2 separate regions of the Homo sapiens genome follow, and region 2 is linked to region 1. The links come from fine-mapping of genetic effects on gene expression. A gene starts in region 1. The other region holds a variant in brackets. All regions are shown on one strand. Distances are between the middles of the regions. Region 1 holds the start of DVL3 (dishevelled segment polarity protein 3). Region 2 has its middle 4.9 kb from the start of ABCC5.

Evidence for each region. PIP is the estimated chance that this variant, and not a neighbour inherited with it, causes the effect.
Region 2: its variant is the best candidate, but not a certain one, in a credible set for the expression of DVL3 in whole blood (TOPMed, PIP 0.58).

Annotation. Positions count from the first base shown.
Region 1 is chr3:184,153,946-184,156,853 of GRCh38, forward strand. DVL3 (dishevelled segment polarity protein 3) reads left to right here and starts at 1,432. Exons shown (of 15, transcript NM_004423.4): 1 at 1,432-1,851. The coding sequence starts at 1,691. RefSeq lists a silencer at 1,329-1,678 and enhancers at 2,016-2,893, 2,894-2,908.
Region 2 is chr3:184,021,286-184,024,193 of GRCh38, forward strand. No RefSeq gene overlaps it. Among named protein-coding and RNA genes, the nearest start is that of ABCC5, 4.9 kb to the left of the region's middle. The variant G/A (reference allele first, on the strand shown) is at 1,277.

The DNA.
Region 1 (2,908 bases):
GTTTTTGTTTTTGTTTGAGGCGGAGTCTCGCTCTGTCGCCCAGGCTGGAGTGCAGTGGTGGGATCTCGGCTCACTGCAAGCTCCACCTCCCGGGTTCAAGCGATTCTCCTGCCTCAGCCTCCCGAGTAGCTGGGACTACAGGCATGCGCCACCATGTCCAGCTAATTTTTGTATTTTTACTAGAGACGGGGTTTCACCATTTTGGCCAGGCTGGTCTCGAACTCCTAACCTCAGGTGATCCACCTGCCTCAGCCTCCCAAAATGTTGGAATTACAGGCATGAGCCATTGCGCCTGGCTTCCCCTGTCACTATCCCATCACTTTGTTTTACCTTCTTCATAGCAGTGGTCACTCTGAAGTTATGTATTTACAAGCCTATGTGCTTCCCTCCAGCTGAGGGAAGGTCCTGAGAGCAGCCTTGTCTGTCTCGCTATCGCTATATCTCATGCGATATGCCTTATACACAGTAGGCCTTCAGTATTTATTAAATGAATTAAAAGTTAAGGGGTGAGGAGATCTGTGAGGAACCGGCTATACCTAGTTCTGGAGTTCTGGTTTGAGACTTACTGTCTTAGGCATGCATGCATCCACTTATCTTTTTTTTTGGGGGGGGGCGAGGGGGGATGGAGTTTCACTTTTGTTGCCCAGGCTGGAGTGCAAAGGCAGGATCTCGACTCACCGATCTCGGCTCACCGCAACCTCCGCCGCCCGTGTTCAAGCGATTCTTCTGCCTCAGCCTCCCGAGTAGCTGAGATTACATGCATGCGCCACCACGCCCGGCTAATTTTTTTGTATTTTTAGTAGAGACAGGGTTTCTCCATGTTGGTCAGGCTGGTCTTGAACTCTCGACCTCGGGCGATCCGCCCGCCTTGGCCTCCCAAAGTGCTGGGATTAGAAGCGTGAGCCACCGCGCCCGGGCCCCACTTATTCCGCATTCAACCCATTTATTAAACCACTACCTTGCAACTGGACGCTAAGGTTATAGGGAGGAATCAGAACTGGATGCTGTCCTTCTCTCGAGATCAGTTTAGTAGACTCAGTGACAGCAGTTGTGCTTCTCAAGAAACACTGAAGGGCCATGTTGAGGTCATTCTCCTCCAGGGATCCAGAGTCAGACCCACCCTCTTTCCCCAGACCATTTCTGGGGACCAAAGCAATCCCTGCATTCCACTCTTCCTGGACTGCAGAGGAGTCGCCGATCCCACTTGGGTCCGGAGTCAGGGCCTTCAGGGGTCCGGGAACGCCGCCATCCCGGTGAATCTCCCCTTCCGTTTCTAGGGACCCGGGACCGGAGCGCCGCGGCCCGGCCAGTGGGCGGGAAACCCTGCCATCTGCCGCGACGCCGGCGCCTCTCCGCGGCGGCCGGGGGCGGGGCGCGCCGGGGCGGGGCCGCGCCGGGCCGGAGGAGGGGAGCGGGCCCGGACGAAGCCCTGGGCCGGGAGGGCCGCGGCCACCGGAAGAGTCGCGGTCGCCAGTCCAGTCGGGAGAGTGGGGAGCGGAAGCGGCGGCCGCGGCGGCGGCGGGCGGCGCTGGGACCCGGTAGCGGCCGGAGAACAAGGGAGCTGGCGCCGCCAGCAGCCGCCGAGCTGGGTTGAGCCGCTGGGCCGCGCCGCGCGCCGCCGCCGTCTGGGAGGCTCGGCCCGGCCGCCCGAGCAGGCCGCGCGCGGGCCGCCGGGCCCGAGGCCAGAGCCATGGGCGAGACCAAGATCATCTACCACTTGGATGGGCAGGAGACGCCGTACCTTGTGAAGCTGCCCCTGCCCGCCGAGCGCGTCACCTTGGCGGACTTTAAGGGCGTTTTGCAGCGACCCAGCTATAAGTTCTTCTTCAAGTCTATGGACGACGATTTCGGGTGAGGATGGCCCCCGCCCCGCCTCCGGGAGCCCCGGCCGCTCTGGCTTCTAAGGGATGACGCGGTCCGTTTCGACTTGCCTCGCTACACCGGCTCCTAGCCCCGCTCTGACTTCTAGGGGCGACTCGGCCCATTTGGGCCCCTTTGGTTCCAGCCCCAGTAGCAACTCCCGTTTACCTCTGAAGAGGGGACGTTGGCCTCCCTTGTTTAAGGGGACGTCCAATTCCCCACTAGCAATCAGAGTTCCTGCCGGTGCGGTCCCCTTACCTCTTCAGAGACCAGTGGCCCACAGAGACAGACACACCCCCCCTCCACCTAGTTTCAGAGCCCGAGTCCCCCATCCTCCTCCTGCCGAGGAGCCAGAGCCACCTTTTTCCGCACAGACTTGGGTCGTGTGGCCCTCGTTCTTCGCCCCCTTCATCTTTTCAGCAGCACAGCTCCCAGCCATATTTGGAGTATGCTGCATCTGAGGGCTCTGCTGGGACTTTGAGCTGGGGGAGGGGTGTCGGGGGTGCTCGGGCGCCTGGCCGCGAGCGGGGTCTGCAGATCTGATGTTTATCTAGCTGCCTGCCCTCTCCTTTGTGGGCTGTTGTGGGTGTTGTCACCGGAACAGAGAGCCTGACCCCTGCGGAGTAGTCCTCACTGACCCAGGTGCTGATCTTTCCTCCAATTCGGGCTTTTTTCCTCCAGTTGGTGGCCAGTGGAGAGACGTTAGGAAGGGCCTGGGGCCTGGGTGGGATAGCCAGGAAGAGTTTCTTGGTGTTCTCTATCTTCCCCTCCCTGGTGGGGTCTTCCCTTCCACCCAGCTGCAGAGATCTGGACAGGCACAGTTTGGAAGCAGTCACTTTCCCTTTAAGAGGGGATGGAATGTTGGAGCCGGAAGGTTCTGAAGCAGCTGGCCTGGGAAGAGGGGGGCCTGGCTGATCCCCCTCGAACCCCCCCAACTCCCAGGAGACTGGGGGAGGGGGAGGCGCCCACACTTGCCTGCCGCCTCACTAACTGGGCGCTGGGCCTGGAGGCGGTGGGGAAGGCCCCTCCAGGCCTGAAGGCTGCCTCT
Region 2 (2,908 bases), 130 kb before region 1:
GGAGGCTGAGGCACGAGAATCCCTTGAACCCAGGAGGCAGAGGTTGCAGTGAACCGAGATCTGGCCACTGCACTCCAGCCTGGGTGATAAAGCAAGACTCAGTCTCAAAAAACAAACAAAAAAACAGAAAAAAAAATGTATCTTTTGGAAACTGCACTGTGGCTGGCAGACTGGGAAAGAATTTGAGACCACTAGAATGGGAGAGAAGGGGCCACCTAGGAGTGACTGTTGTTGTGTAGGAAAGAGATCATGGTGGCTTGGATTAAGGTTGTGATGGAAAAGATGGAGAGAAAAAGATGAACTCAAGAGAAATTTAAGAGGTGATATCAACAGAACATGTGGATAGATTAGATACAGGGCAATGAGAAAGAAATGTCAAGGGTAACATGTAGGTGGTTGTGGAACTGGATAGATGGTGGTCCATTCATTGGCAGAAGTGCTCTACTGCAATAGCCTGACACCGTCCTCTACCTAGCTTGTCTAGAACTAATGTCACATGCTAACAGTCACCCCATATCTGCTATGGTACTCACGTTGAATTCTTCTAACAGTTATCAAGACAGAAGCTCCCTTTGTAGTTCAATTTTTCAATGAAAGGCATTTTCATGGAATAAGACCTTTTTTAAAGTTAGTTAATAAATCAAGTTTTATATTTGTTTTTTGTTTTGTTTGTTTGTTTGTTTTTTGAGACATTGTTTCATTCTTGTTACCCAGGCTGGAGTGCAATGGCGCAGTCTCGGCTCACTGCAACCTCCGCCTCCCGGGTTCAAATGATTCTCCTGCCTCAGCCTCCCAAGTAGCTGGGATTACAGGCACCCACCACCATGCCCGGCTAATTTTTGTAGTTTTAGTAGAGACAGGGTTTCACCATGTTGGTCAGTCTGGTCTCAAACTCCTAACCTCAGGTGATCCGCCCTCCTCGGCCTCCCAAAGTGCTGGGATTTACAGGCGTGAACCACTGTGCCCAACCTAAGTTTTATATTTGACATCATGGAAACCATGTAGTGTGAAAGAATAATGCACTCTTTAATGGCCTCAGGCAAATTAGAAGACAAGAGAATTTAAGTTTTAAATAATGCCAGATGAAAGCCAGATGACATGACAGCATGTTATACAGCCAAAGGGTTCACATATTTTCATAGAGAAGCCAAGTCTTCCTAAAGTACACAGAAGTATAGGCATGTTATGAGCAGTCATATTGCACATTCATCATTATAAAGGAAAGCATTGCACATTTCCTTTGTGGTAACAACTTCCCTTGTTATTTCATTGTTAC[G/A]TTACTTCATTAGTATGAAGTAGTTAGTATGAAGCGTTGCTTTTTAAATTTTTTTTTTCTTTTGAGACGGAGTTTCGCTCTGGAGTGCAATGGGGTAATCTTGGCTCACTACAACCTCCACCTCCCAGGTTCAAGCGATTCGCCTGCCTCGGTCTCCCTAGTAGCTGGGATTACAGGCGGATGCCACGACGCCCAGCTAATTTTTGTATTTTTAGTAGAGATGGTGTTTCACCATGTTGGTCAGGCTGGTTTCGAACTCCTGACCTCAGGTGATCTGCCTGCTCGGCCTCCCAAAGTGCTAGGATTACAGGCGTGAGCCACCATGCCTGGCCTGCTTTAAAAATTTTTTAAAGTACTCTTACATTGAGATGCACTATCAGATTCATTGGCCCAACAATAACAGATAGCTGTTCAAAAACTAGCTCCTTGTTAAAAACAGGAAAGAAATTGACAGCAATTATCTAATTTTAGCAAAACAATATTTGTAAATTAATTTCAACTTTATAGTGCTATAAGAACTATAAGCATAATGACTTTGCACACAGCTTTATGAACGGATTTATTTAAGTAATATTCTCATGTAAATAAGAAGTCAACATCAGGGGTTTGAGAGAATTGTTTCTCTTAAAAGGGGTCTGAGCCTTATTTGAGTTAGGGAAACACTGGGCTATAAAATAAAAGCAAACCTTGGCTGGGTATGCAAGGTCTTCCGTGATCTGGCCCTCAAAATACCACTGCCTCATCTCCTGTCACTCTCCTAGTCAAACCTGAGGTCCTGCCAACATTGTATTTTCCATGTTGTTATTCTAGCTGTTCCCTCTCTCCAGAACACCCTTCTAAATCTACTCAGCTAAAATAATAATCACAGCCCATAGGCAGGTCTTGGGATTTTAATCCTCCCAGAATGACAATTACTTACTTATTCAACGGAATAAAATGGTACAATATGTCTAACATCTCATGATGAGATGTATATGGAGAATTCTCCCACATTTTATTGTGAAGAATGGACTGAGCACCCACTACCTGAGAATCAACAGGATCCCTCTAAGCCAGAGAAGCAGGACCAATAGTCCAGAAAAAACAGAGCCTTCTCCAAAAAACAGGACTTGTCAGACAGAATGGTCAATCCCAGTCATTCCCCAATACTTCTCTTAAGCGTTTTGCTTGATAAATATGGACTTTTGACCAGAAGAAGAGAGAAACAACTCTGGTGTAAAGGTTGTTATCACTAGTAATCCCTCCCTCCTTCCCTCTCTCCCTCTCTTTCTGTCTTTCTCTCTTTCTTTCTTGAGGCAATCTCACCCTATCACCTAGGCTGAAGTACAGTGACATGATCTCGGCTCACTGCAACCTCTGCCTCCTGTGTTCAAGTGATTCTCCTGCCTCAGCCTCTGGAGTAGCTGGGATTACATGCATGCACCACCACGCCTGGCTAATTTTTGTATTTTTAGTAGAGACAGGGGTTTTGCCATATTGGCCAAGCTGGTCTCGAACTCCTGAACTCAAGTGATCCGCCCACTTCGGCCTCCCAAAGTGCTGGGATTATAGGCGAGAGCCACCGCACCTGGCAGGCTGCAGTTTCTTTCAATCAAAACAATTCAATTGTTGAGACCCTGAGGAAAAAATGTG